Regions from separate parts of the Homo sapiens genome. Here all the other regions are linked to region 1. The links come from fine-mapping of genetic effects on gene expression. A gene starts in region 1. Each other region holds a variant in brackets. All regions are shown on one strand. Distances are from middle to middle. Region 1 holds the start of PLPPR2 (phospholipid phosphatase related 2). Region 2 holds the start of TSPAN16-AS1 (TSPAN16 antisense RNA 1). Region 3 holds the start of TSPAN16 (tetraspanin 16).

The links.
Region 2: its variant is fine-mapped to the expression of PLPPR2 in blood mononuclear cells (TOPMed, PIP 0.97).
Region 3: its variant is fine-mapped to the expression of PLPPR2 in whole blood (TOPMed, PIP above 0.99).

What each region holds. Positions count from the first base shown.
Region 1 is chr19:11,348,096-11,358,462 of GRCh38, forward strand. It overlaps PLPPR2 (phospholipid phosphatase related 2), which reads left to right and starts at 7,337. Exons shown (of 10, transcript NM_001393892.1): 1 at 7,337-7,477; 2 at 8,707-8,881; 3 at 9,565-9,644. The coding sequence starts at 9,579. CCDC159 (coiled-coil domain containing 159) reads left to right here. Exons shown (of 11, transcript NM_001080503.3): 2 at 1,559-1,592; 3 at 1,843-1,931; 4 at 2,023-2,104; 5 at 2,713-2,908; 6 at 3,811-3,878; 7 at 3,962-4,038; 8 at 5,356-5,477; 9 at 5,697-5,779; 10 at 6,485-6,601; 11 at 6,778-6,849. The coding sequence ends at 6,782. RefSeq lists enhancers at 2,375-2,875, 8,249-9,190 and a silencer at 7,157-7,606.
Region 2 is chr19:11,320,767-11,329,950 of GRCh38, forward strand. RAB3D (RAB3D, member RAS oncogene family) reads right to left here. Exons shown (of 5, transcript NM_004283.4): 5 at 1,302-4,819. The coding sequence ends at 4,632. It overlaps TSPAN16-AS1 (TSPAN16 antisense RNA 1), which reads right to left and starts at 559. Exons shown (of 3, transcript NR_187778.1): 1 at 458-559. It also overlaps a transcript of TSPAN16 not described here. RefSeq lists an enhancer at 3,482-3,691. The variant A/G (reference allele first, on the strand shown) is at 3,362.
Region 3 is chr19:11,288,045-11,298,411 of GRCh38, forward strand. It overlaps TSPAN16 (tetraspanin 16), which reads left to right and starts at 8,116. Exons shown (of 7, transcript NM_001282509.2): 1 at 8,116-8,322; 2 at 10,098-10,295. The coding sequence starts at 8,254. RefSeq lists an enhancer at 10,149-10,367. The variant C/T (reference allele first, on the strand shown) is at 5,795.

The DNA of each region.
Region 1 (10,367 bases):
CATAGAGCATGTGATTCCACACCTCCAAGCTTTTGCACATGCTGCTCCCTGCCAGGAAAGGCCTTCCTTTAAGCCAATGTCAAGGTCCCTTTTTTCTTTGGACTCTTCTGAGGCCTGATTTTTTTTCTTTGGGGCCTTCTGGGTCCTTCTCACTGCCCAGCCCAAACCTTGGGGCTGGGATAATCTTTTTTGTTGTTGTTTTTTATTTTTGGAGACTGAGTCTCACTCTGTTGCTGAGGCTGGAGTGCAGTGGTGCAATCTCGGCTCACTGCCACCTCCGCCTCCCGGGTTCAAGTGATTCTCCTGCCTCAGCCTCCCGAGTAGCTGGGATTACAGGCGCCCACCACCATGCCCAGCTAGTTTTTGTATTTTTAGTAGAGACGGGGTTTCACCATATTGGCCACGCTGGTCTCGAACTCCTGACCTCAAGTGATCCTCCCGCCTTGGCCTCCCAAAGTGCTAGGATTACAGGCGTGAGCCACCATTGCTGGCCGCGTCTGGCCTTGGGATCATCTTTTATCCAGCTTTGGCTCCTACCATAACTGAGAAGCCTTGAGTTTAGGGCTGAGGCCTCTCTGGCATGTCAGGGAGGGTCTGGGGGCACTGGGGACATGGGGACTTATCTCAAAGCAGCCCCTGCTTCCCTACTCACAGCGACCCTCTTTTGGCCGGCCTACCCCGGGACCCTGACTACTCTGTGTCCTGCCTCTACTCACCTCCCTCACCCTCCAGCATGTGTTTGCCTGCTAACATGAAGTGTGACAAGTACTGGGGTTAGTTAGGGGGCTCCCATAGGGCTGGGGACACTGGGAGGGGCTGGGAATGTGAGGAGTGCCCTGCACTGTCCCTCAAGGAAGCCCTCACCCCTAGGCTCTTCCTCGGACAAGGCTCTGGAGCGTACAGCTCACTGGTCCAGGACTCCAGAGCCAGAGACCTTGGGATGCCCTGCTTCTGGGGACACAGTGAGGACTGCAGACTGCAGGCCAGGGTGGGGCTCAGGGCCTTCGCCACATGAGGCTGCCCCCTCCCCCAGTCCAGACCTGCAGAAGCAGTGCTGTAATGACCAGGACATTTTGAAGAGGCATCACAACGTAGCTAAGGTCACCCCCACCCGGGAAACCCCTTCAATGCAGAAAACCACTGCAATCTACTGCTGTGGGGCTTAGGGAAGGGGCTGTAAGGCAGAGAGACTCCCATGAATGCACCCACTGTGTTTCTTCAGCACCTAGAACAGCACCTGGCACTCAGCAGGCCCTGGCTAAGCAAGTCTTAAATGAATGGATGAAGGAATGAATGGAAGGAAAGAGTGTGGTTGTGTGTCTTCCATGGGGATTTGGCTGTGATCGTCTCTCAGCCACATAAGTGCACTTCTGAGCATATGTAGCCCAAGGGGGAGGTGCATGAATATGCCTGGAGTGCAGCTTTGCCTGCACTTACGGTTTGGGACACCTAGAACTGAGGAGATCCAACTCTTGTCCAGCCCTCAAAACTGGGTTGAGGTGAGCAAGGAGGCAGCTCAGGGACAAATTTCTACTCCCATCTCATCTCTCTTCCTTAGAAGCCCTTGGAGACCAGCTCTTCCAAAGTCAAAGGTGAGAAATCTCCTTTCCAACAAAACTGTGTGGGGAAGACCTGCTGGTTTCTACCTCTACCCTCTGCCCCAGCATCAGCTGTCCCCCTGCCATGGTCACCCATTCACTCCTGCCCAAGGCTGAGTGGGCCCCTGTTCTATATCTTATCCCCTGTCCCTACTGCTACTCTGAGCCTTTGCTGACCTCTGCCCTGCCCTTGCCCCAGACCCCACCCCTTACAGCCCTGGCTCACCCTCTTCTCTGCCCACAGCCAAGACCATTGTGATGATTCCCGACTCCCAGAAGCTCCTGCGATGTGAACTTGAGTCACTCAAGAGCCAGTTACAGGCCCAGACCAAGGTGAACCACCTTGGCCCTGCCCCCAGCAACCTCTGTTTCTCCTTGCCCTCCCCTCCTTCCTCCCACCCCAAGGCTGACCTCTTTCCCCCAGGCTTTCGAGTTCCTGAACCACTCAGTGACCATGTTGGAGAAGGAGAGCTGCTTGCAGCAAATCAAGATTCAGCAGCTTGAAGGTGAGGACTGACCAGAGATCAAGGTCAGGCTAGGCCAGGCGTGGTGGCTCACGCCTGTAATCCCAGCATTTGGGGAGGCCAAAGAGGTTGGATCACTTGAGGTCAGGAGTTTGAGACCAGCCTGGACAACATGGTGAAACCCCATATCTACTTAAAAAAAAAAAAAAAAAAAGCCAGGTGCTGTCACTCATGGCTGTAATCCCAGCACTTTGGGAGGCTGAGGCAGGTGGATCACCTGAGGTCAGGAGTTCGAGACCAGCCTGGCCAATATGGTGAAACCCCATCTCTACTAACAATACAAAAATTAGCCAGGCGTGGTGGTATGCACCTGTAGTCCCAGCCACTCAGGAGGCTGAGAAAGGAGAATTGCTTTCTGGGAGGCAGAGGTTGCAGTGAGCCGAGATCACGCCACTGCACTCCAGCCTGGGCAACAAAGCAAGACTTCATCTCAAAAGAAAAAAAGTCAGGCTGGAAGCTGGTCCTGTTGGGATCAGCTGGGCCAGGCCAGGGTGAGGGAAATTGGGAGAGTCTGGGTTCTGGGTCAAGATTAGGACAAGCTGGGTTCAGGGTGGGATCAGGGCTCAGTCAAGGTCCCACACTCTCTGCAGAGGTGCTGAGCCCCACAGGCCGCCAGGGAGAGAAGGAGGAGCACAAGTGGGGCATGGAGCAGGGCCGGCAGGAGCTGTATGGGGCCCTGACCCAAGGCCTTCAGGGGCTGGAGAAGACCCTGCGTGACAGTGAGGAGATGCAGCGGGCCCGCACCACTCGCTGCCTGCAGCTGCTGGCCCAGGAGATCCGGGACAGGTCGGGGATGGCGGGAGGGCAGCTTGGAGTCCACAGGAGGGAAGGGAGACCCAGAACTGGGGAATGGAGGCAGGATGGGGGAAATGGCAGATGCCTGGGGGAGGGGGACTGAGGGATGGTGGAAAGCCTGAGGGACAAGAAGAGGGAATGAGGCCGGGTGTGGTGGCTCATGCCTGTAATCCCAGCACTTTGGGAAGCCGAGATGGGCGGATCACCTGAGGTCAGGAGTTCGAGACCAGCCTGGCCAACATGGTGAAACCCCATCTCTACTAAAAATACAAGAATTAGTCAGGCATGGCGGCGGGTGCCTGTAATCCCAGCTACTAGGGAAGCTGAAGCAGGAGAATCACTGGAACCCAGGAGGCAGAGGTTGCAGTGAGCTGAGATCGCACCACTGCACTCCAGCCTGGGCGCCTGGGCGCCTGGGCGGCAGAGCGAGACTCTGTCTAAAAAAAAAAAAATGAGGAGGGGATGAGAGGCTCAGGGGAGACAGGTGGCTGGTGGGGGCGGGGGAGTGGGAAACTGAGAGGCCAGAAGGCAGGGAAGACAGAAAGCTGGAGGTGGGATGGAAAAGGAGGCCAGGGGATCAGAAAGGGGGATGGCAGGGAAGACTGAGAGGACAGGAGACTGGGGGTATAGAAAGTCGGGGGACAGGAGGTGGGGAGGTGGAGGCCAGGTGATAGGAGGCTGAGTGGGGTGGGAGAGACTGAGAGAATGGGAGGCTGGGGATCAGAAGGAGAGGAGGGGGATGAGGGTAGGGGGATTGTAGAAGGGGAGGGGAAAAGGGCAGGGAAGTGTGGGGAGGGGACAGAGCTTGCGGGGATGGGTGGAGGCACAGATAGGGGCATGGGAGGTCAGGGGCCAGGCAGGGAGTGCAGGTCTAGGCTGCACTGTCCCCTCAGCAAGAAGTTCCTGTGGGAGGAGCTGGAACTGGTGCGGGAGGAGGTGACCTTCATCTATCAGAAGCTCCGTGAGTTCCTGGAGCCCACAGCCGGTGTGTGGGGAGGGGGTCCTTCTTCAGCCTTTGTCCGCCTGAGCCCCCTCCCTCCACAGAAGCGCAGGAGGATGAGATCTCAGAGAACTTGGTGAACATTCAGAAAATGCAGAAAACGCAGGTGAAATGCCGCAAAGTGAGTGGAGGAGATGGGGACCCTGGGGAGGAGTGGGAGAGGGAGGGATGGGGATTTTGGCCAGCCTCCACCATGAGATTGGAGCCTGGGTTCAAATCTCAGCTCTGCCACTCACTGCTGTGTGACTGTGGGCAAGTCACTTGACCTCTCTGAGCCTCAGTTTCCTCATCTGTATAATGGATGTAATAATAACTCATCTTGGCTGGGCGCGGTGGCTCACGCCTGTAATCCCAGCACTTTGGGAGGCTGAGGTGGGTGGATCAGAAGTTCGAGACCAGCCTGGCCAACATGATGAAACCCCGTCTATACTAAAAATACAAAAATTAGCTGGGTGTGGTGGCAGGCACCTGTAATCCCAGCTACTCAGGAGACTGAGGATGGAGAATGGCTTGAACCTAGGAGGCAGAGGTTACAGCGAGCCGAAATCGTGCCATTGCACTCCACCCTGGGCGACAAGAGCAAAACTCCCATCTTAAAAAAAAAAAAGAAAAAAGAAAAAGAAAAAGAAAACTCATCCTGTTGGGTGCTGTGGCATGCCTGTTATCTCAGCACTTTGGGAGGCTGAGGTGGTTGGATTGCTTGAGGCCAGAAGTTCAAGACCAGCCTAGGCAACATGGCAAAACCCTGTCTCTACAAAAAACAAAAAAAACAAGAGGGTGTGGTGGCACATGCCTGTAGACTTAGCTACTCAGAAGGCTGAGGTAGGGGGATCACTTGAGCCTTGGAGGTTCAGGGTGCGTTGAGCCCTGATAGTACCATTGCACTCTAGCCTGGGCGACAGACTGAGACCCTGTCTCAAAAAAGAAACAAACACCAAAAACAAAAACAAAAAACAAAACAAAAAAAAACACTCCTCCCTACCTGATCAGGTGTCTGTATTAGCTGAGTACTGTGCACTTGAATGCAGTCTGGCATATAACAAGTGCTATATAACAGTCACCTTTTACTATTATCATTATTATTATTTATTTTGTTTTCTTTTTTGAGACGGAGTTTCCCTCTTGTTGCCCAGGCTGGAGTGCAATGGCGCGATCTCAACTCACTGCAACCTCTGCCTCCTGGGTTCAAGCAATTCTCCTGCCTCAGCCTCTCGAGTAGCTGGGACAACAGGCGCCCGCCACCACGCCCGGCTAACTTTTTGTATTTTTAGTAGAGATGCGGTTTCACTGTGTTAGCCAGGATGGTCTCAATCTCCTGACCTCGTGATCTGCCCGCCTCGGCCTCCCAAAGTGCTGGGATTACAGGTGTGAGCCACCGCGCCTGGCACTATTGTCATTATTATTATGACTGCTGTTCTCTCATCCCTCCCCACCCCAGATCCTGACCAAGATGAAGCAGCAGGGTCATGAGACAGCCGCCTGTCCGGAGACTGAAGAGATACCGCAGGGAGCCAGTGGCTGCTGGAAGGATGACCTCCAGAAGGAACTGAGTGATATATGGTGATGCCCAGCCTGCAGTCTGACCCCTGACCCTCCTCTGAACCCGTTCCCCCAACGGGATCTGGCAGTGACCACCAGAACCTGGAGCCCACCTGAGTCCAGACTTCCCTCACCCCCTAGGACTCACCCCACCACGGCCCCCAACCTTAGCTGTACTGCTGTCTACACCCTGAGCAGTGTGGAGTCTCCCAGCGCCCCCAGCTCCTTGTCTTCTTGCAGGTCTGCTGTGCACGTGCTGCAGAACTCCATAGACAGCCTCACTTTGTGCTCGGGGGCCTGTCCCAAGGCCTCGAGCCTAAGAGGTGAGGGAGGCTGAGAATTGCTCAGGGGTGGGAGGTCATTGTCTAGCTTCACAGGGAGGCTATGTTCAGAGAGCCTATTTGGGAGTCACATCTGATGGGTGTTATTCTATGGTCACATTAAGTAGTGTTCTGGGGTCACATTAAGGAGTCACTGGAGGTTTCATCCAGGAGTCATTCATGGTCACATTCAGAGTCACTTGGATCTTATATGAGTCCATGGGGACTCCACACAGTGGCTCATGCCTGTAATCCTAATATTTTGGGAGGCTGAGGTGGGAGGATTACTTGAGTCTAGGAGTTTGAGACCAGCCTGGGCAACACAGTGAGACCCCATCTCTCCAAAAAATTTAAAAACTAGCTGGGTGATGGTGCACCTGTGGCTGAGCACACCTGTAGTCTCAGCTACTCAGGAGGCTGAGACAGGAGGATCGCTTGAGCCTGCGAGGTTGAGGCTGCAGTGAGCCATAATCGTGCCACTGCACTCCAGTCTGGGCAACAGAGCGAGACCCCATCTCTAAAAAAAAAAGTGTCAATTGGGTAAAATGCAAGGGTCATTGAAGTCATAATTTGGTGTCACACTGGATCACATTCAAGGGAATTGGGGGTCATGGTTTAAGTATCAATGAGGTATACTATGAAGGGACACAGGGCCTATATTTGGGGGTTACTTGAGGGTCACATTCAGGGAACCTGTCCCTCCTGCAGGCCACAAGGGGCACCAGTGCCTGAGCCCTCCACTCCCCTCCTGGGACTCTGACTCCGACTGTGACCAGGACCTCTCCCAGCCACCTTTCAGCAAGAGCGGCCGCTCCTTCCCACCCGGTGCAGATCCTCCCCAGTCCCCCCCTCCACCCATTTCCCTCCTGACCTGCCCTTGACTCCCACAGTCTAGACCCTCAGAACAGGCCCAGATCCTGATCTGGGCATGCGGTCCCTGACCTGCAGCCCCGGAGTCCCCTGGACCTGGCCAGGCCCTGACCCACCCTCTCTCTCCACAGCTTGAGCAGCCGGGACTGCTCTCCCTGAAGACCCCTCCAGAGAGAAAATAAACTAGCCCAGACCCTCCTCTAGCCCCGACTGTTAGTCTTGCTGCTTCCTGTGCCTAGGAATCCCCCTGCCCTCCTAGTTTACCCCTCATTGTTGGGGGGGAGGGGTGTAGAGACCCCAGGGGTCATTCGGGATGTGTGGGCTTGGAATCAGGGGACATCTGAAGCCAGATTTAATATATGACAAGGCAAGGAGTCATTCTGTCCAGACACGAGCAGCCAGACAGACTTCCACACTGGCCACAGAGCCTTCCTTTCTGGGGGGCCCTGGCGAATGGGGAAACTGAGGCCCAGAGAGGGAGAGGCGCGGCCCAGGGACATACTCTGAAGCCCCTCCCTCCTATTACCCTCGGAGCCCCGCCCACCCCAGGGTCCTCCCTCTCTACTTCCATTCTTGGTTCCTTCCTACAATCGATGCTAACACGCCCCGCCTCCAAGATCACGGAGGCCCCGCCCCACGGGGCTATGCAAATGAGACGCCCGGAGGCCCCGCCCCTCCCTCCACCTCGGAGTCTGCGCGGCGCGGCCAGGCCCGGCCGACCGCGTCTCGGTCTTCGCGTCTGCCAGCCTGGCTGGCAGTCCGTCTGTCCATCCCGCCGCGCCGGGGCAGTCTAGGCGGAGCGGGGGCTCAGGCGGCGGCGGCCTCGACGCGGTGAGAGGAGGGGGTGGGGGCGCCCCTCATCCCCTCCCGTGGGCTTCCCACCCCCGGTGTCGGTCTCCGGTTCCTGAGGGTTGGGTCCCTCTGGGTCCAGCGCGGGGAGGGGCGGGGGAGGGGAGGCGGCGAGCTGGGGGAGGGGACCGGGCTGGGGGAGGGGACCCCGGGCCGAGGAGCCAGCACCGGTGGTGAGGGCGGCTGTGGGTAACTGTGATTGTGTGGTTGTCATTGTGTGTCTGTGTGTGGTTGTGTAACTGTCATCGTGTGGCTGCATGACTGGGATTGTGTGGTTTCGGGAGGTCCGCGGGTGTGTGTGTGTGTGTGTCACTGTCATTGTGCGGCTGTCGTTGTGGGTGTCACTCTGATGGTTTGTGTGTGTGTGTCTGGCTATGCTGTGACTGCCATTGGCCCCCCGTGTGGCTGCTGTCTCTGTGTGTGACTGTCTTGGTGTTCGTGTGGTTGTGTGCATAGGACTGTCATTGTGTGGCTCCTGTTGTGTGTTCATTCTGATGGTGTGTATGTGTGTGTGGCTGTGGTCGTGCGCTGTGCACCTTTCTTGTGTGGCATTGTGAGTCTGTGTCATGGTCCATGGATGTGGCCATGTGGTTGTAGATGGCACCTTGTCTCTCCCCTGTGACTGTTGGTGTGAATAAGAGACTGTTAGTGTGTGTGTGGCTGTCGCTGAGTGCCTTGTAATTGGGGGTGTGACGCTGTGATGAGTTCTGTGACCCCCATTGTGTGCGGTGACTCTTTTCTGTGACTCTTAAGTGTGTTGCAGGCCTGACTGTGTGTCCCTGACTGTAGCGGTGTGGGGGCTTGTGTGGGACTGTGATGTGTGTAGGGTCTCCTGACATGTCTCTCTCTGTTTGGCCTGGGGTGGGGGTGGGGACTTGTTTGATCTGTTTGGTGTCTCTGACAGGCTATGAGCCCACTGTGTGTGAGTATGCAGTGACATGTGTTGTGTGTGTTGGACACCTGTCTGAACAAGGGGGCCCCTCTTGTTTACTGCAAAGTGGCGCCCAGCACAGCGCCTGGAAGTCGGCAGGTGCTCGGTCTTCACTGTGGGATGGGTGAACGCTATGCCATGGTTGTGTGTGTGTGTGTGTGTGTGTGTGTGTGGTGCCAGGATGGAGGCTGCGGCTGGGTTGTGCTTCCTAAGGGTGACAGCATGGGTGACTCTGGGTATCTAGGACCTCTGGCAACCATCACCCCATATCACACTGCAGAGTGAGTGTCGTGGTTGGGGTGCTGGACCCAGAGTGCCTACCCTCGCCTGCCTGGGCCTCAGTTTCCACATCTGCACAATGGGGGTGACCATCCCTGCCCTGCTGGCTGCCAGGAGCGGCTGTGAGTCTTCAGGCGTGGATGCAGCCTGGGGGAAGCCATAGGGCGCTTTCACAGGTGAGATGGGGCTGGGAGAATGGATGCAAGCAGGTGTGACTGTGTTGAGCCCTAAAGCGCTGGGGACTGGGGGTAGCCTTGGGGGAGGGAAGAGGAGAACTGGGAGGCAGACCGGCTGGGAAGAGGGGGAAGGAGGGAGAGGCAGTTGGCAGAGAAGGAGGGCTTGGCTATCAGCCCAACCAGACACCAACACCACAGCCCATGGGGACAGAGAGAGGGGCCCCTGCAGAGGCCATGGAGGAAGCGACTCAGGGGAAGGGTCTGGTAGGGATGGGGGCCCCTTGGGAAAGAGGATGGTGTCCCCTAAAAACTAGTGGGGACCCTTCTAAGTGCCATGGGGGAGGGGTTCCCATGAGGCTGGGGAGTCTCTTCTAAAGGCCCACCTCCTAAAGGGCATTGGGTCAGAGCCTCCCATGTAGGCTGTAAAGGAAGGGACCCCCGTAGACTCTTGGGGAGTGGTGTCAGAGGAGGCAGGTGTCCCCAGTAGGGTCAGGACCAACAGGGCAGGACCTGGATTGCAGAGGCATGGCCAGAAGGTTCAAGGGACAGAGTCAGGGCCTCCCCGGGTCTTCAGGGCCAGGGGTGTGGCCAAAGGACTCAGGGGATGAAGCCAGGGTCCCGGTGACCTGAGCCTTCCCCTAGGCACACCCCCTGGGACTCCCACTCCCTCCCCACCTCTGCAGGCCTGGCCTTCACCATGGCGGGAGGGAGACCGCATCTGAAGAGGAGTTTCTCCATCATCCCCTGCTTTGTCTTCGTGGAGGTGAGGACCCCCGTACCTCTCCCAGAGACGGCGTGCCTATCTCTGTCTCTGTCCAACCTCAGTCTCCTTATCTGTACCCACTTTTCCATCTCTGGGATCTCCCTTGCTGTCCCCTTTCTCTTGAGAAATGGTTATGAGCTTAGATTCAGAAGTGCCACTCCCCGGGGTCCAATCCCTCTCTGCCCCATCCACACTGCAGGGTGCTGGACACCACAGGTACCCTCCTGAGCCACAGTTTCCTCATTCATAAAATGGACATCACCAGAGTCCCAACTCATAGGGCTGTTCTCTGTGTGTGTGTGTGTGTGTGTGTGTGTGTGTGTACGTGTGTTTGAGATAGGGTCTCACTCTGTCACCCAGGCTGGAGTGCAGTGGCATAATCTCGGTTTACTGCCACCTCCACCTCCTGGGCTCAAGCAATTCTCCTACCTCAGCGTCCCGAGTAGCTGAGACTACAGGTGTGTGCCATCATGCCCAGCTAATTTTTGTACTTTTTGGTAGAGGTGGGATTTCAACATGTTGGCCAGGATGGTCTGGAACTCCTGACCTCAAGCAATCCTCCTGCCTCAGCCTCCCAAAGTGCTGGGATTACAGGCGTGAGCCACCACGCCCGGCCTCCTAGGGCTGTTCTAAAGGTAAAATATATTAATTCATGGACAAAGCTTGGTACGACCCCCTGCCCACAGTGAGGGTTACACCTGTGGTAGCTGCTAGCACCCCTAC
Region 2 (9,184 bases), 28 kb before region 1:
TGAGATTTGCACAGTAGCCCAAAAGAGGAAGTTCAGTTAGGGGAGCTTTGTTGTATTAGTCTGTTTTCCTACTGCTGGAAAGAACTGCCCAAGACTGGGTAATTTATAAAGGAAAGAGGTTTGCCCGTGTACGGTGGTTCACGCCTGTAATCCCAGCATTTTGGGAGGCCAAGGTGGGCAGATCATGAGGTCAGGCGTTCGAGACCAGCCTGGCCAACGTGGTGAAACCCCGTCTCTACTAAAAACACAAAAATTAGCCAGGCGTAGTGGAGTGTGCCTGTAATCCCAGCTACTCGGGAGGCTGAGGCAGGAGAATTGCTTGAACCTGGGAGGCGGAGGTTGCAGTGAGCCAAGATGGCACCACTGCACTCCAGCTGGGTGGCAGAGTAGGACTGAGTCTCAAAAAAAAAAAAACAAAAAAATACCCAAAAAAACATAAGAGGTTTAATTTACTCACAGTTCAACATGGCTGGGGAGGCCTCAGGAAATTTACAATTATAACAGAAGGCAAAGGGGAAGCCAGATACCTTCTTCACAAGGTGGCAGGAAGGAGAAGAGCCGAGAGAAGGCGGAAGAATCCCTTATAAAACCATCAGATCTCGTGAGAACTCACTTGCTATCAGGAGAACAGCATGGGGGAACCGCCCCCAGGATTCAATGACCTCCACCTGGTCTCTCCCTTGACACGTGAGGATTATGGGGATTACAATTCCAGATGAGATTTGGGTGGGGACACAAAGCCAAACCATATCAACTGTGACTACCTTGGGTAAGGGCCATCCAGGCAGAGGCAGGGGGAACATTCTGGGCAAAGGCCTTGGGGCAGGGGCCTGGTATGTTCAGATAGCAGCAAGTAGGCCAGAGTGGCCGGAGGGGAGCAAGTGTGGGGAGGCCAGTGGAGAGATGAGGGTAGGGAAGGGATGGATCAGATCATGCAGGGCCCCGGGGGCCACAGGAAGGACCTCAGCATTTACTGCAAGTAAGGTGGGAGCCATCGAATGTTCTAAGCAGAGGAGGAATGCGCTGTGACTCAGGTGTTCACAGGTGCCCTCTTGCTGCTGGGGAGAGAACTGAGCTTTTTACTAGAAGTAGTTGAGGGAAATAGTGTCCTCCCTACCTTCCATATAACAGAGCTTTCCAAGGTCAAGGTGGTGGCCATGGGACCCAGTGGGAGGCAGCCCGAGGCCCGGTGAGGTTTCTGCTGTGTCTTGAAGAGCCCTTGACTGATATCTGCTTAGTTGCAAATCAAACCCCCTTTCCCAGAAACGCACTTCACTAATGGAAATAAAAGCACAACTATATTTGGGCACGACGGATTTAAGTTTTTCTTGTTGAGAAGAGTACATCTTTCCAAACTGGACATCAAGGAATTGCTACACAGAAGAACCACATCCAGGATAGAAAGGACCAGCCAGAGCTCGTTCAGTAGTGTATTTCAGAATCATCAGGGAGGAGCCGGTAGCAGAATTATCCCGTTAACACTGAGACCACATTTCACCTGTTACTTATTTTTCTAAATGGAGTAGGAGAGAAAGATGCTAAAATGTGATCTTGGGAGGAGTCCCCCAGTCCCCCGAAAAAGAAGAAGAAAAAAAAAAAGCAGAACTCCAAACCCCTGTGGTCATGGCAATTTCCCATCAAAACTGCCCATGTAAAATAAACACAAGCTGCTAAAAGTGAATGTTAAGAAGGAAGGCACTGGTTAGTGGGTGGTCCTGACCAATCCCCTGGAGCTGGAGAGGGGTTTTCCCACGGCCTTTGGTTTAATGTGTCTGTAAACTCAACAAACCTCCGTTTCCCTGAGGTAATCTGCAAAAACATCAGTTTTCAGTCCCCAGAGACCATTTCCAATTAAACCTCACCCCCCAAATCATTCAATGTAACATTTGCCTTATTTTTAGAAGAAACAAATGTTCCCATATTATTCCCAGTTTTTGAGAGAATCCTGAGGCAGCTCTCTCGGCTGCTACTTGAAGTTGAATTCTTGAAAAATCTTATGTAAACAGAAAGCTTAGGCCAGGTCAGGAGTAAAATGCAGTCAAAGCTGTTTCTCATCACACAGGTGATTACAGGTTAGCTCTGCCCTATTCAAGACAATCTGATCCATTCCTTTTTTTGACAGCAGTTTAGAGACAATTGGCCAACAAAACCAGCCTGGCCAACAAGGTGAAACCGTCGCTACTAAAAATGCAAAACTTAGATGGGCGTGGTGGCAGGTGCCTGTAGTCCCAGCTACTTAGGAGGCTGAGACAGGAGAATCGCTTGAACCCGGGAGGTGGAGGTTGCAGTGAGCTGAGATCATGCTACTGCACTGCGGCCTGGGCGACGAGCGACTCTCTGTCTTAAAAAAAAAAAAAACAAAAAAACCTCAGCAGGCCATACTGCATCTTGAGAAGTCTTTTTGAAGCTACTTTAGTTTGACTTTAGTGTTAAAGTAGCTAAAAATTTTTGACTCCCGCCCACATATTCAGATACCCTCACTTTGTGCATAGGATTTGTCCATTACACCTCAGTCATCTAATTTGTTGGTATAAAAGATACCCTCGGCTGGGCGTGATGGCTCACGCCTGTAATCCCAGCACTTTGGGAGGCCGAAGCAAGTGGATCACTTGAAGTCAGTTTGAGACAAGCCTCACCAACATGGTGAAACCCCTTCTCTACTAAAAATACAAAATTTAGCCGGGTGTGGTGGCAGGTGCCTGTAATGCCAGCTACTCGGGAGGCTGAGGCAGGAGAATCGCTTGAACCCTGGAGGTGGAGGTTGCAGTAAGCTGAGATTGTGCCACCGCACTCCAGCCTGGGCAATAGAGCGAGACTCTGTATCAAAAAAACAAATGAAAAAAAGATACCCCACTCCAAAGTTCTAAGGGTAGCCTCTGGTATGAAGAAACCAGGGCTCCCTAGAAATAAATCTAAACTTGAACCAGGCTTTCCCCCTCACACATACCCCAGGGAAGAGGCTGAGCTCATGAAAGCTGCAGGAAGTCATTTTGGCTTCAGGGGCTGGGAGAGCAGACACAACCTCTGAAACAGAGTCAGGGACGTGGGAACATAAAACATCCACTTAGCCATCCTAACAGTGCTGGTCCTGTGAAGGGGTGTTGGTTGGTGTTTGGGAGCAAAGAAAAGGTGCTGCGCCCCTAGAGTTTGGAATCTGATGGGCAGAAAGTGCCTCTAAACCGGAGGTCAAGATGTACATCTTCAAACTGCACACGTAACCTCTGAGCAGAAGCCCCTGGAGGTGGGGACCCCAGCTTCAGAGACTCCCCGGCACTGATCACAGTCCATCCCCCCCATTCACATAAGGTCCTGCCACTCTCAGGCTGTCTACAAAGTACAAGCAGTGACAGCAAGTTACTCA[A/G]TCCTACCTCCTCACCCCTTCCGCCCAACCCCCAGCATCCCTTAGAAGTGACCCCTAGTTTGAGGCTGTGGTGAGCTATGATTGCACCACTGCACTCCAGCCTGGGTGACAGAGCCAGACCATCTCAAAAAGAAAAAAAAAAAAAAAGAAGTGACTCCTCCATTAGCAAAAATTGTCACATCCCTGGGCCCTGCCGATGACAAGGATTGGGAAATGGACATTGGGTCTTGAAGGGCCCCCCTCAAGTCGGAGCCCAGGTGCTTACATCAGAAAGTCGCCGACAACTGCCTGCGGTGGCTGGGAACGTTGCTTCATTTCCTTTTCTAGCAGGATGCATGATTGGGCAAGAACTTGCTTAAAACACAACCAGCTAAACAGCTAAACAGGGCCTGGGAGGGAGGCCCCAGCCCCAGGCTCCTGGCTCTGAGGTTAATTAACTTCTGGCCGAAAGCCCAGAGCCGGAGTGCTAGGGGTTGGGCGAATCTCTGCCCAGTCTAATGTGGTCCATAGTTCCAGAATTCACTTCAGGATCAGAGATGTGGTGAACACAGCAAAAACAGTGGCAGGGTCGTGGGTGATGTGGATCTTGGGGGAAGCTTGGAAGGCACTTCTGGGGTCCCTGAAGCCGGGGGGTTGAGGGGATCTGACTCCCTGTCCCTTCTACAATGGGAAAAGGCTGCTTCAATGCTGCTTTTCGCAAGTAGAGGGTCTGCAGGGGTCAAAGGGATCACCATCCCACCTTGGAATCCAGAAAGTTCGTGGGGGCAGGCTCAGAGACCAGCCTGCAGGACCTGAGAAAGAGGCGCCGCCTTCCCTGGATGAACTCCAAGAACCCACACTGTGCGAGGAAGATGAACCATCTTCCACCAGCTTGGGAATATCAGTCCTGCCCAACCCAGAAGAGACCTGGAAAATGGTTCTAAGCTAGAAGGCACCACGGATGCCCCTCCATCAGAAAGAGTGGGACGTGTCACCCATGGCCACCCTCAACACACCCTGGAAAGCAGCAAGCTCATGCACGTCAGTGTCCCTGGGCCTCTGCCTGCCATGCAGAGCTGAGTCCCCATGGTCCGCAGCCTCCCACCGGGGCTGCCTGAGGAACCTGGCAGCCACGGCGACATTGTGAAGGAATGAGCCATGCAGGAGTCGGGGAGCAGTTGACAGGAGGGAAGGGATTGCCCTGAGCTTGGAGATAACCACTGTGGCTCACGCCTCGATCACAGTCCCTGCCGAGGCAGGAGAGGGGTGGGTGGGGGGTTGGGGGCCATCTCTAGCAGCTGCAGCTGCTGGGCTGGGGGGCTGGAGCATCCCCCACGGCCGGGCCTTTCCCGTTGCTGCCTGAGCTGGAGCTGGGTTCCAGGGACTCGTTCATCTTCTCGCAGATGACATCCACCAGGCGCTCGAAGACCTGCTTCACATTGATGTTCTCCTTGGCACTGGCTTCAAAGAACTCGAAACCTGGATGAATGTTAAGGTGGGGACACTCGTAAGACCCCTGAGGGCAGAGTCTCAGCTGTGGCATCACAGAAACCTGGCTTCTAAGCCTAGTTCTGCTCTTTATCCTGCTGTGGGACCTTGGTTGTGTGCCTTTGCCACTCCAAGCCTCAGTTTGCTCACCTGTAAAATGGGAATGATGATCCTACCAATGATAAAAATCTGTGGCAGGCCAGGCGCAGGGGCTTATGCCTGTAATCCTGGCACTAAAGGAAGCTACGGCGGGAGGATCGCTTGAGGCCAGGAGTTCAAGACCAGCCTGGGCAACATAGCAAGGCCCTATCTCTACAATAAATTTTTTTAAAAAGTAGATGGGCGGCCAGGTGAGGAGGCTCATGCCTATAATCCCAGCACTTTGGGAGGCCGAGGCGGGAGGATCATTTGAGGTCAGGAGTTCAAGACCCGCCTGACCAACATGGTGAAACCCCATCTCTACTAAAAAGACAAAAAATTAGCTGGGCATGGTGGCACGCGTCTGTAATCCCAGCTACTCGGGAGGCTGAGGCAGGAGAATTGCTTGAATCTGGGAGGCGGAGGTTATAGTGAGCTGAGATCACACCACTGTACTCCAGCCTGGGCAACAGAGCGAGATTCTATTAAAAAAAAAAAAATAGAGGGGCATGGTGGCGTTCACCTGCAGTCTCAGCTACTCGGAAGGTTAAGGCAGGAGAATGGTTTGAGCCCAGGAGGTCAAGGCAGCAGTGAGCCATGATCACACCACTGCACACCAGCCTGGGTGATGGAGCAAGACCCTGTCTCAAAAACAAAACAAAACGAAACCCTGCGGCTGCAGCCATGGTCTGGACAATCCTAAGATCTCTTTGTCACAAGGCAGTGGCTGCAAGAGTATAGGTGGGAGGGTACATGAAGAGTTCTGCTGCCCTGCGGCCATGGCAGTGCCCACAGGTGGCTATAGCTCAGCTTCCACCCAATTTCTGCTGCACAGAAAGGCATGGTCAGGAGACCCATCAAGTCACATTTTCCATTGCTTTTTTTAAAAGAGAAACGGTCTCTCTCTATTGCCCAGGCCGGGGTGTAGTGGTATGAACATGGCTCATTGCAGCCTCAACCTCCTGGGCTCAAGCGATCCTCCCGCCTTGGCCCCCTGAGTAGCTGGGGCTACAGGTGTGCCCCACCATGCCCGGCTAATTTTTCAATTTTTTCTTTTGTAGAGGTGGGGGTCTCGCTATGTTGCGCAGGCTGGTCTTGAACTGCTGGCCTAAAGCGATCCCCCCGCCTAGGCCTCCCAAAGTGCTGGGTTTACCAGCGTGAGCCACCACGCTGGGCTTCCTGCATCCTTTTAAGGTTCCTGAGGGTCTGCCTGAGAGGAGCTGTCCCTGAATCTCCATGCAGCCCCACCTGCCACATCACCAAGGTAAGCCAGGAATTCAGACAAACGCCTGCCACGTTACACGTGGCCAAGGGTAAGTGGACCTGTCTTCTCTGTGCGTCATGCTGAACTATGAAAATGGAATCATAATGAGTTAGCTGTGTAATTACCCATTTATTATCTGTCTCCGCTACTAGAAAGCCAGCTCCAGGCAGGCAGGATTTCCGCCCATGGCTGTACCCAGTGCCCGACACAGAGAGGGTGCTTAGAAACTGTCTGCTGAATGGTTGAATGAATGAATGGGTAAATGAACAATAGCAGGGGCAGGACATGAACTTAGATCTCCTACTGTCAGCCCAGAGATATCAAAGCCATCCCACTGTCTTCCTGGGCAAATCTGGTGTTTCCTTATCCACGCGTGGCTTTGCCTCATACCATCTGTGTTCTTTATTTTTCTTTTTGTTGAGACAGAGTTTTGCTCTTGTCGCCCAGGCTGGAGTGTAACGGCACGATCTCAGCCCACTGCAACCTCCGTCTCCCGAGTTCAAGCGATTCTCCTGCTTCAGCCTCCCAAGGAGCTGGGACTGCAGGTGTGAACCACCATGCCAGGCTAATTTTTGTATTTTCAGTAGAGACAGGGTTTCGCTATTTTGGCCAGGCTGGTATCGAACTCTTGACCTCAGATGATCCACCTGCCTCAGCTTCCCAAAGTGCTGGGATTACAGGCATGAACCACCGTGCCCAGCTTATTTTTCTGATATTAATCAGGCGTGGTGGTATGCGCCTGTAATCCCAACTACTCAGGAGGCCAAGGCAGGAGAATCACTTGAACCCAAGAGTTCAAGACCAGCCTGGGTAACATAGGGAGACCCTGTCTCTAAAACAAATAAAAATTTTAAAAAGGAAAAAAAATACATTTTTTGGATGTCATTCAATAGAGAAATTTACTGGAGAAACTAGAAACTACAGAAAAGTATTAAGACAGCCTATAATCCCAGTACTTTGGGAGACTGAGGCAGGTGGGTACCTGAGCTCACAAGTTTGAGACCAGCCTGGGCAACATAGCAAGACCCAGTCTCTAAAGAAAATATAAAAATTAAGGCCAGGCATGGTGGTTCACGCCTGTAATACCAGCATTTTGGGAGGCCAAGGTGAGCGGATCACTTGAGGTCTGGAGTTTGAGACCAGCCTGGCCAACATGATGAAACCCCGTCTCTACTAAAAATGCAAAAATTAGCTGGCCATGGTGGTGCACACCTGTGATCCCAGCTACTTAGGAGGCTGAAGCAGGAGGATCACTTGAACCTGGGAGGCGGAGGTTGCAGTGAGCCGAGATTGTGCCATTGTACTCCAGGCTGGGTGACAGAACAAGATATTATCTCAAAAAAAAAAAAAAAAAAAAGAAGAAGGTTGGGGGGTGCCAGGCGTGGTGGCTCACGCCTGTAATTCCAGCACTTTGGGAGACGGAGGTGGGCGGATCACGAGGTCAGGAGTTCGAGACCAGGGCCAATACGGTGAAACCCCGTCTCTACTAAAAATACAAAATTTAGCTTTGTGTGGTGGCACGTGCCTGCAGTCCCAGCTACTCAGGAGGCTGAGGCAGAAGAATTGCTTGAACCCGGGAGGTGTAGGTTGCAGTGAGCCGAGATTATGCCACTGCACTCCAGCCTGGCAACAGAGCAAGACTCCATCTCTAAATAAATAAATAAATAAATATTAGCCAGGTGTGGTGGCATGCACCCGTAGTCCCACCTACTTGGGAGGCTGAGGTGGGAGGATGACCTAAGCCAGGGAAGTTGAGGCTGCAGTGAGCTGAGGTCATGCCATTGCACTCCAGCCTGGGCAACAGAGTGAGACCCTGTCTCAAAACAAAAACACAAAGAAATGTATGGAGATAGAGATAAAAGTAATTTGTAATCTCATCACTTGGAAACAATTACTGTTGGCGTTTTGCTATTTAGCTTTCTAGTCTTTATTCATCTTTTTTTTTTTTTTTTTAAGACAGAGTCTCCCTCTGTTGCCCAGGCTGGAGTGCAGTGGTATAATCATAACTCACTACGGCCTTGACTCTTGGGCCCCCCTCAGTCTCCCAAGTAGCTGGGACTATAGGGGTGTGCCACCACACACAGCCGATTTTTGGTATTTTTTATAGGGGTGGGGCTTCACCATGTTGCCCATGCTGGTCTCTAACTGCTAGACTCAAGTGATCCTCTGCCTTGACCTCCCAAAGTGCAAGGATTACAGGCATGAGCCACCATGCCCAGCCTTTAGTCTTTTTCTATATAAATATGTCATTTGTTGGGGTTAGGTTTGTAGGGGATGTGTGTGTGCACATGTATGTGTGTCTGGCTTTTTTTCCTACAAAATTGGAATCAGGCCAGGCGTGGTGGCTCACACCTGTAATCCCAGCAGTTTGGGAGGCCGAGGCAGCGGATCACCTGAGGTCAGGAGTTTGATACCAGCCTGACCAACATGGTGAAACCCCATCTCTACTAAAAATACAAAAGTAGCCAGGCGTGGTGGCACATGCCTGTAATCCCAGCTGTTCGGGAGGCTGAGGCAGGAGAATTGCTTGAACCTGGGAGGCGGAGGTTGCAGCGAGCCAAGATTGTGCCACTGCACTCCAGCCTGGGCAACAAGAGCGAAACTCCATCTCAAAAAAAAAAATAAAACAAAAGAAAAGAAAAAAAAATTGGGATCAAATTCTGTGTCCTGCTTTGTATGCCAATCTTCTTTTTGTGTGTGTGTGAGATACAGGCTCACTCCATCACCCAGGCTGGAACGCAATGGCGCGATCTTGGCTCATTGCAACCTCCGCCTCCCGGGTTCAAATGGTTCTCATACCTCAGCTTTCCAAGTAGCTGGGATTACAGGCACGTGCCACCACACCCAGCTAATTTTTGTATTTTTGGTAGAGACAGGGTTTTACCATGTTGGCCAGGCTGGTCTCGAACTCCTGACATCAAGTGATCTGCCCACTTCAGCCTCCCAAAGTGCTA
Region 3 (10,367 bases), 60 kb before region 1:
CCTCGACTTCCCAGGCTCAAGACATCCTCCCAACTCTGCCTCTAGAGTGGCTAGTACTACAGATACACGCCACCATACCTGGCTAATTTTTATTTTTTTAGAGACAGGGTCTCGATATGTTGCCCGGGCTGGTCTTGAACTCCTGGCCTCAAGCCTCCTGTCTCCTCTGGTCTTGCCCTCCCAAAGTGCTGGGATTACAGGCATGAGCCACCACCCCTAACCCCTCTCCTATGTCTTATAAAGACACCAGATATTGACCAGATATTGGATTTAGGACCTGACCTAAATCTAGGCTGACTTCATCTCAAGATGTTTAACCAATGACATCTGCAAAGACCCTGTTTTCAGATAGGGTCTCATCTGAGGCTCCAGATGGATATGAATTTTGTGGTGACATGACTTAACCCACTGTGGTGCTCACGGTAACCAGAGCTGGACATGAAGTTCTACAGGAACTGCGAGAACATTAGCAGGTACCGGGCCGAGTCATTTCCCTCTATTCCCACCAGGAGGCCTTGTAGTCCTGTTCCTTTTACAACATTTATTTCTTTTCTACTGTGGCAAAATATATATAACTTAAAATTTTGTCATTTTAACCATTTTAAGTGTACAGTTCAGGCCGGGTGTGGTGGCTCACACCTGTAATCCCAGCACTTTAGGAGGCTGAGGTGGGCGGATCACTTGAGGTCGGGAGTTTGAGACCAGCCTGGGCAACATGGTGAAACCCCGTCTCTACTAAAATTACAAAAATTAGCCGGGCATGGTGGCACGCTCCTGTAGTCCCAGGTACTCAGGAGGCTGAGGCAGGAGAGTTGCTCGAACCCAGTAGATGGAGGTTGCAGGGAGCTGAGATCGCAAGATCACGCCACTGCACTCCAGCCTTGGCAACAGAGCAAGACTCTGTCTCAAAAAAAAAAAGAAAAGTACAGTTCAGCAGCATTAAGCACATTCACATCGCTGTGCAGCCATCACCACCATCCGTCTCCAGAACTTTCTCATCTTTCCAAACTGAAACTCTATCCCCATGAAACACTCACTCCCCACGCTCCTCTCCATTCCCTGGTACCCACCATTCTGTTTTCTGTCTTTATGAATCTGATGACTCTAGGGACCTCAAATGAGTGGAATCATGCAATATTTGTCTTTTTTTTTTTTCGAGACAGAGTTCGCTCTGTCGCCCAGGCTGGAGTGCAGTGGCGTGATCTCGGCTCACTGCAAACTCCGCCTCCCGGGTTCACATGATTCTCCTGCCTCAGCCTCCCAAGTAGCCAGGATTACAGGCGCCTGCCACCACATACAGCTAATTTTTGTATTTTTAGTAGAGACGGGGTTTCACCATGTTGGCCAGGCTCCAAACTCCTGACCTCAAGTGATCTGCCAGCCTTGGCCTCCCAAAGTGCTGGGATTATAGGCATGAGCCACCGCGCCTGGCTCCCGTTGTCAATTCTTTTAGTTAAGAATTTGAGCAGGTGTGGTGGCTCATGCCTGTAATCCCAGGATTTTGGGAGGCTGAGGCAGCCAGATCACTTGAGTCCAGGAGTTCAAGACCATTGCTAGAGCCTGTCTCTACCAAAAATGGAAAAAAAAAAAAAAAAGGCAGGTGCGGTAGTGTGTGCCTGTAGTCTCAGCTACTCAGGAGGCTGAGGCGGGAGGATCACTTGAGCCCTGGAGTTTGAAGCTACAATGAACTATGATCACATCACTGCACTCCAGCCTGAGCAACAAAGTGAGATCCAGTCTGCAAAAAAGCAACAAAGATTTCTGCATTCATTTTCTCAGCTTTTGAGCATCTTTTCCTCTAGTTGGACAATCTTATACTTAATCAGCTACTAATACTTTCAAAGGGCATTTAAGGCCGGGCACGATGGCTCACGGCTGTAATCCCAGCACTTTGGGAGGCCGAGGCAGGTGGATCACCTGAGGTCAGGAGATCGAGACCAGTCTGGCCAACATGGTGAAACCCTGTCTCTACCAAAAATACAAAAATTAGCTGGGCATAGTGGGGCATGCCTGTAGTCCCAGCTACTGGGGAGGCCGAGGCAGGAGAATTGCTTGAACCCAGGAAATGAAGGTTGCAATGAGCTGAGATTGCACCACTGCCCTCGGCCTGGGCAACAGAGTGAGACTTCGTCTAAAAAAAAAACAAAAAAACAAAAACAAAGGGCACTTAAGTTGTTGTTTCCAATCATTCACAAGTCAAGCGAGGCTTAAGAGCAGGCATTAGCAAAACTACATTCTGCCACCCATTTTTGTAAATAACAAAACCATCTCATATTATAAATAACATTTTATTTTGACAGAGTCACACTTGTTCATTTACATATATTTACATATTGTCCATTTACATATTTTCTATGGCTGCAATAGCAGAGTCCCAACAGAGACGGTATGGTCCGCAAAGCTGAAAATATTTACTTTCTGGCTCTTTCCAGAAAAATCTGCCAGCTCTTGGCCTATGTGCATTTGAATAAATCTGTAGTAGGAATTCCTAGAAGGAGAAACATTCCCCACAAGGTTTTAAAAGTCCATTTGCGGTTGTTACAGGTCCGCCTGTAATAAAATCTCCAAAAGCTATTTATGAGGTCTTTTTTTTTTTTTTTTGAGACAGAGTCTCACTGTGTTGCCGAGGCTGGCGTGTGCAGTGGCAAGACCTCGGCTCAACGCAACCTCCGCCTCCCGGGTTCAAGCGATTCTCCTGCCTCAGCCTCCTGAGTAGCTGAGATTACAGGCATGCACCACCATGCCCGGCTAATTTTTGCATTTTTGGTAGAGACGGGGTTTCACCATGTTGGCCAGGCTGGTGTCAAACTCCTGACCTCAAGTGATCCGCCTGCCTTGGCCTCCCAAAGTGCTGAGATTACAAGCGTGAGCCACTGCACCTGGCCAACCTTTTCAATGTGTTTAAGTGAGATACTTGAGGAATATGGGATGGGAACAGTCTTGGCCACCCTGGGACCAGCTGCCCAGACAACAGAGGGAATTAGAACCCGATCCCCCATGCTAACAAGAACAGAAGCCCCCTCGAGATGTGTCACCTGCATGCACTGGTCTGGGGCCACTCGCTGCTTCCTGAACTCTCATCAGGACCCTCCAGTCCTCCTAACCCTTCAAGGTTGATACCCCTGAAACCCTCCCTTCTCATCACTGCCTGGGTATACCTTATATACTAAATATTTTTAATATTATCAAGGATCTTGGCTGGGTGTGGTGGCTCATACCTGTAATCCCAGCGCTTTGAGAGGCTAAGTCAGGAGGATTGCTTGAGCCCAGGAGTTCGAGACCAATCTGGGAAACATAGCGAGACCCCTGTCTCCACAAAAAATAAAAAAATTAGCCGGGCGTGGTGGCACGTGCCATTGGTCCCAGCTACTCTAAAGGCCAAAGCGAGAGGATCGCTTGAGCCCAGGAGGGTGAGGTTGCAGGGAGCTGAGATCACACTACTGTACTTCCAGCCTGGGAGACAAAGCGAGACCCTGTCTCAAAAAACAAACAAACAAACAAAAACCCATCTCCTGGTTCTCCTTAATTTCACTTCCCTCTTTTCCAGCCAGAAGCTAAGGTAGCTGAAGGGGTAGAAATTGCAGATCTTTCTTTATGTAGCAAGAGAGAGGAACTGGGAAAGCAGTGAGTGTCCCTGTAGGACAGGGGTCTTCTTATTTTATTTTATTTTTTTGAGACAGAGTCTCGCTTTGTCGCCCAGGCTGGAGTGCAGTGGTGCGGTCTCGGCTCACTGCAACCTCCATCTCCCCAGCTCAAGCAATTCTTCTGCCTCAGCCTCCTGAGTAGCTGGGATTACAGGTGCCCACCTGTAATTAACCGCATCCAGCTAATTTTGTAGTTTTAGTAGAGACGGGGCTTCCCCATGTTGGCCAAGGCTGGTCTTGAACTCCTGACCTCAGGTGATCCACCCGCCTCGGCCTCCCAAAGTGCTGGGATTACAGGTGTGAACCACTGTGCCTGGCCTGACAGGGGTCTTCTGATCACTCCTCAGTGCCTCCCAACCCACCATACAGAGCACAAAGTGTTAACCCTAAGGCAGAATGTGAACATGGGGAAACAAATGCAATTTTAAAAAACAACCAGCCAAACAAAAAAATCCCTAATGGTGGAAATGCTGTTTGTTTTTTTTTCATTTGGTAGCAATGATTACCATCATGCTCCTCTCCTGCCACAATGACGTCAGCCCCTGATGCTGAAACTTGGTGACACTTCTGTGCTTGTCCCCAGTGAGGGCTGAGGTGCACAACCTGGGAACTCCTAGAACAAGTGACTGATGCCAAAGGTGTGGACCAGCCTCTGCAAGGACAGACACCTTTCTTTTGTGTGTCCCAGACTTTTTTTTTGGATGGTGGATTCTGATTTGCCTCCTTCCCCAACGATGGCTATTAAAATACCTGAAACCATAAAATGCCCCTTTGTCAAGGATGGATCTAGGTTTTGTGAGGCGTAAACAAATACATTTCTGCCGCAAAGTTTACATGAACAAGTGAGCAGGCGAACCTACTGCCGCGCTCCTCTCTGACCTTGAAGGGTGGGCGCAAGCTCAGGTCTCATTCATTCACTATTTGTTGTTCAGTGCTCCCAAACACCCAATTGTTGCCCTTGACAACAAACACATGAATTTAAGAAGAGGAGTTCAGGCCAGGCACGGTGGCTCACGCCTGTAATTCCAGCACTTTGGGAGGCCGAGGGGGGTGGATCACTTGAGATCAGGAGTTTGAGACCAGCCTGGCCAACGTGGTGAAACCCCATCTCTACTAAAAATACAAAAATTAGCCGGGCGTGGTGGCGTTGCGCCTATAATCCCAGCTACTCAGGATCCTGAGGCAGGAGAATTGCTTGAGCCTGGGAGGCAGAGGTTGCAGTGAGCCGAAATCGCACCACTGCACTCCAGCCTGGGCAACAGAGAAAGACTCCGTCTGAAAATTAAAAAAAAAAAAAAAAAAGAGGAGAGTTTGTTGACTAATATGGGTCGTTGACATAAATATTCTGTGTGTGATTGTATTCAACACATTTCATTTTTTGGTTGTGATTTTTTTTTTTTTTTTTTTTTTTTGAGACGGAATCTCGCTCTGTCGCCCAGGCTGGAGGGCAGTGGCGCGATCTCGGCTCACTGCAAGCTCCACCTCCCGGGTTCACACCATTCTTCTGCCTCAGCCTCCCGAGTAGCTGGGACTACAGGCGCCCGCCACCACGCCCAGCTATTTTTTTTTGTATTTTTTTTAGTGGAGACGGGGTTTCACCGTGTTAGCCAGGATGGTCTCGATCTCCTGACCTTGTGATCCGCCCGTCTCGGTCTCCCAAAGTGCTGGCATTACAGGCGTGAGCCACCGCGCCCGGCTGGTTAATTGTGCTTTTTAAAAAATATCTCCCATCCCCATAAATATGTACACCTACTATGTGCCCACATAATTAAAAATTAAACAATTTTAATCCCCTAAAAATAAAAAAGGAGACCAAGCATGTGGAGAAATAAATGTCTCAACACACCATAAGGGTGTATTGGAGTGGCCCTTCTATGATTTTGACAATGATATTAAACGTCCTGGCCGGGCGCGGTGGCTCATCCCTGTAATCCCAGCATTTTAGGAGGCCGAGGCAGGAGGATGGCTTGAACCTAGGACTTAGAGGTCAGCCCAGGCAACATAGCGAGACCGCGTCTCTACAAAAAAAAAAAAAAAAAAAAAAAGCAAGTATCTTGCATTTGCAATTCGTCGGATGCCTGCAAAGTTCCGTGGGTGTGTGATGTAGGAATCTGGGGCACGGGAAGTTATTCTTGCTTCATTTCCTGACG[C/T]TGACCGGCTGGGCGGGGTCCCTGGGGCACCCGGGCACATTTGGACGTGTTTGGCAGGGAGAGTCCTGGCCCAGCCCCGGCACGTAGGGCCGCGCTTCCACGGGCCGCCGCCAGGAGACGCGCGAGGCTGTAGATGCGGCTTTGCAGAGAAGCTGGGAGGGTAGAGGGGCTGGGGCGGTCGAGGGGCGGGGCTGCGTGCAGCCGGCCCAGATTCCTTTCCGGCCAGTTCCTTCCAGGAGCTGCTCCCACGTCTACAGCGCCGTCTGCTACTCACCCAGCTCTCTTGTATCTGAGCCTCATTTTCCCACCGTCCTTTAAGCCCGTTTTCCCACTGCTCATTTGCAGCCAAGTTTCCATCTCGCATCTTTGCGTCCCCCTTCTCTGCACCCTCCTTTGCACCCCCATTTTCCTGCTTTCCCTTGAGTCCACATTTCCCAGACCTCCTTTGCCCCCTACATTTTCCAATGCTCTCTTGCATGCCCATTTATCACCCTCTTTTGTGCCCCCATTTCCAGGCCCTCAGCCCCTGGTTCTGAGGTTCCTTACTTCAAATGACCTTTTTTTTTTTTTTTTTTTTTTCCTGAAACGGAGGAGTCTCCCTCTGTCTCCCGGGCTGGAGTGCAGTGATGTGGTCTCGGCTCACTGCAACCTCCGCCTCCCGGGTTCAAGAGATTCTCCTGCCTCAGCCTCCCGAGTAGCTGGGACTGCAGGCACCCGCCACCACAACCGGCTAATTTTTTGTATTTTTAGTAGAGACAGGGTTTCACTGCATTAGCCAGGATGGTCTCGATCTCCTGACCTCGTGATCTACCCACCTCGGCCTCCCAAAGTGCTGGGATTACTGGCGTGAGCCACCGCGCCTGGCTTCAAATGACCTCTTAAATAAAGGTGTGGAAGGACACACTCCTGGCTGTGAACAGCACCCGTGGTCCAGGAGGAGACAGCACTCCTCTGTGAACATCTTGCTTAGTTCTACATGTTCCAAGAAGCAGGCGATTTGACAGACATTCATTAAATTAATTAAAGTGTAAGGTATTTTCTCCCATTTGAACCATCCGCCTTCCCCCAATCCATGCAGGACCTGGACCCAGACACACCCCAGCCCAGGGCTGGACAGAGAGGGGATCGGGGTGGGGCAATGTGAAGCTGCTATGGTTAGGGTGGGGAGGTATGGGGGCAAAGTGGGCTACAGACTGCAGGATCTAGGCCTGGAGGTCTTCAGTGCTGACATACAGAAGGTTTTTGGTCCTGAAATGCTAACTACATCTATCACCATGGAGAAAAGCCCAATGACCTGCTACTTGGGAGGCTAAGGTGGGAGGATCACTTGAGCCAGGGAGGTCGTGGCTGCAGTAAGCCATGATCACACCACTGCACTCCAGCCTGGGCAATGGAGCAAGATCCTGTCTCAAAAGAAAAAAACCCAGTGACCAATGGCTCACAGTTCCAGGACTCTCTGCCTTACAGGTTCCTGCCCTCATGTTACTCTTGGGGCTTCAAAGCCTGGTCTTGCTTCCTGTGTGGCCTCAGGCAGTTCCCTTGGCCTCTCTGAGCCCTGTATGAAGGATGGGCCAAGTATGGGCTTGGGCTTGGGAGGCCCGGTGGCTTGTAGCTAGATTTCTGCATCACAGAGCCTCTGGATCCATTCATTCATTCTCCGCGGGTTTCTTAAGTACTGCAGTGCCAGGCTTTGGGGACACAGCTGTTTTTGTTTTTGTTTTGTTTTGTTTGAGACAGAGTCTCACTCCGTCAACCAGGCTGGAGTGGAATGGCACGACCTCAGATCACTGCAACCTCCACCTCCTGGGTTCAAGTGATTCTCCTGCCCCAGCCTCCCAAGTAGCTGGGATTATAGGCGTGTGCCACCACACCCAGGTAATTTTTGTATTGTTTGTATTGTTAGTAGGTCTCAAACTCCTGACCTCAGGTGATTCGCCCGTCTCCGCCTCCCAACATGCTTTGACTACAGGTGTGAGCCACTGCGCCTGGCAGGGGTCACAGCTGTTAATAGGACAGCCCAAGTTCCCCCCTCCCCCGCTTGGATCCCCCAGTCTACTAGGAGATGTCAACTGTGCAAGTGGTTAGCTCTGGGCACTATGCCCACAGGGTCCTGGTGGCATCTGGAGGGTACCAGGGTAGCATACCATGCCTGTTCTCTTTCCCTGCTGTGACCTGTTTGAAGGATGAGGAGCCAACAGGGGGCAGTTTGGGGCACCTGATTTCCCTGGACCATGAGCCTTGCTCCAGAACCCAATTGTGATGTGATAAAAGGCTTATGACCAGGGCAGGGGGCAGCTGCTGGGCCGCCTTGGACAACCATCAGGCAGCCAGGACACAGAGGGGCAGAGCAAGTCAGCATTGGCGCCCCTTCCTCAGATCCCTATCATCTTGGGAAACAGTAGCCCAGAGGTTCAGGAAGATGTTAACTTAAATGTTCAGGGTGCCCCAGTCTGTTCAGCATGGCTGAAATCCACACTCCGTATTCTTCCTTGAAGAAACTGTTATCTTTACTCAATGGCTTCGTGGCTGTAAGTATGTCACAATCCAGGCCCCTGGTTTGTTGCAGCCCTTCCTCCACAGTCAGCTCCCTGAAAGACAGAAATAAGTTGATCCAAATTGGCATCGAGATCTGTGGTTCCCTGGAGAAGCAGGAGGGATGTAGGGCAGACGGAGGAGGAGGAGCAGGGAGCGTGGGGACCTCCATCAACCGAGAGCTGGTGAAATCCAGCACAGATGAGTGTGATCTGGGGGAGCCCAGGTGGGTGATGGAAGAGCTTGGCTCTAAGTCAAATCCTGTAGCCGACCAAGTTGTTTGGGAAGGCCAGGAGAAAGGGTTATTTTCTTGATCTTTTAAATTTGTCACATTTTTTTCCTTACCGTAAAAGTAACCCGAAATGTACATTGCTAAGGAATTGTCAGGCCGGGGGCGCTGGCTCATGCCTGTAATCCCAACGCTTTGGGAGGCCAAGGCGGGTGGATCACGAGGTCAGGAGTTCAAGACCAGCCTTGGTCAATATGGGGAAACCCCATCTCTACTAAAAATACAAAAAAATTAGATGGGCGTGGTGGCACGTGCCTATAATCCCAGCTACTCAGGAGGCTGAGGCATGTGAATTGCTTGAACCTGGGCGGCAGAGGTTGGCAGTGAGCCGAGATTGTGTCACTGCACTCCAGCCTGGGCAACATAGCGAGACTCTGTCTCAATAAAAAAATAAAAGAATAAAAACATAAAAAGAAGTAATTGTCTTCATTGTAGCATAGTCTAAGGAAAAGCTGCCAGGAAAGAGAAGGAAATGAAATATCACTCCTCCTCTTCACTTGTAACATTTTAAAGAGAATTAAGGCCGGCTGTGGTGACTCATGCCTGTAATCCCAGCACTTTGGGAGGCCGAGGTGGGCAGATCCATTGAGCCAGGAGCTCGAGACCAGCTATAGTGAGATCCCCATCTCTATTTAAAAAATAATAATACAAAATAAAGTGTTATTGGAACATGGCCGTGCTCACTTATTTGGAGATTGTGAACAGCTGCTTTTGGGCTACACCAATAGAACTGCGTAGTTTCAACAGACACCTTAAGTCCTGCAGAGGCCACAACATCTGGGTTTTTCAGAAAAAAAAAATTGCTAATCCCTGTCCTATGACATTATTTTATTTTATTTTATTTTATTTTATTTTGAGACGGAGTCTTGCTCTGTCACCCAGGCTGGAGTGCAGTGGCATGATCTCAGCTCACTGCAACCTCCACCTCCCAGGTTTAAGCGATTCTTCTGCCTCAGCCTCCTGAGTAGCTGGGATTACAGGTGCCCACCACCACGCCCGGCCAATTTTTGTATTTTTAGTAGAGACAGGGTTTCGCCATGTTGGCCAGGCTGGTCTCGAACTCCTGACCTCAGGTGATCCACCTGCTTCGGCCTCCCAAAGTGCTGGGATTACAGGTGTGAGCCACTGTGGCTGGCCTATTTTATTTTTTGAGACAAGGTCTTGATCTGTCATCCAGGCTGGAGTACAGTGGCACAGTCATAGCTCACTGCAGTCTCAACCTCATGAGCTAAAGTGATCCTCCCACTGCAGACACCTGAGTAGCTGAGACTACAGGCACGCACTACTACTGGCTATTTTTTTTTTGTTGGGGAGAGGGTACAGATGAGGTCTTACCAAGCTGGTCTTGAACTCCTGGGCTCAAGTCTTGGCCTTGGCCTCCCAAAGTGCTGGGATTACAGGCATGAGCCACCGCACTCACCCAGTTCTATTTGTATACAACTAACAGATTACTTTTCTTCCTTTCTGGTTTCTGTTCTAAAGGTGTCTGGCATCATCCTAGTTGGCCTGGGCATTGGTGGTAAATGTGGAGGGGCCTCTCTGACGAATGTCCTCGGGCTGTCCTCCGCATACCTCCTTCACGTTGGCAACCTGTGCCTGGTGATGGGATGCATCACGGTACTGCTTGGCTGTGCCGGGTGGTATGGAGCGACTAAAGAGAGCAGAGGCACGCTCTTGTTTGTAAGTTGGATCTGCACACAGACCCCAGAACTGCCTCCCCACACACACAAATCTTTTATTGTGCGTGTTGCA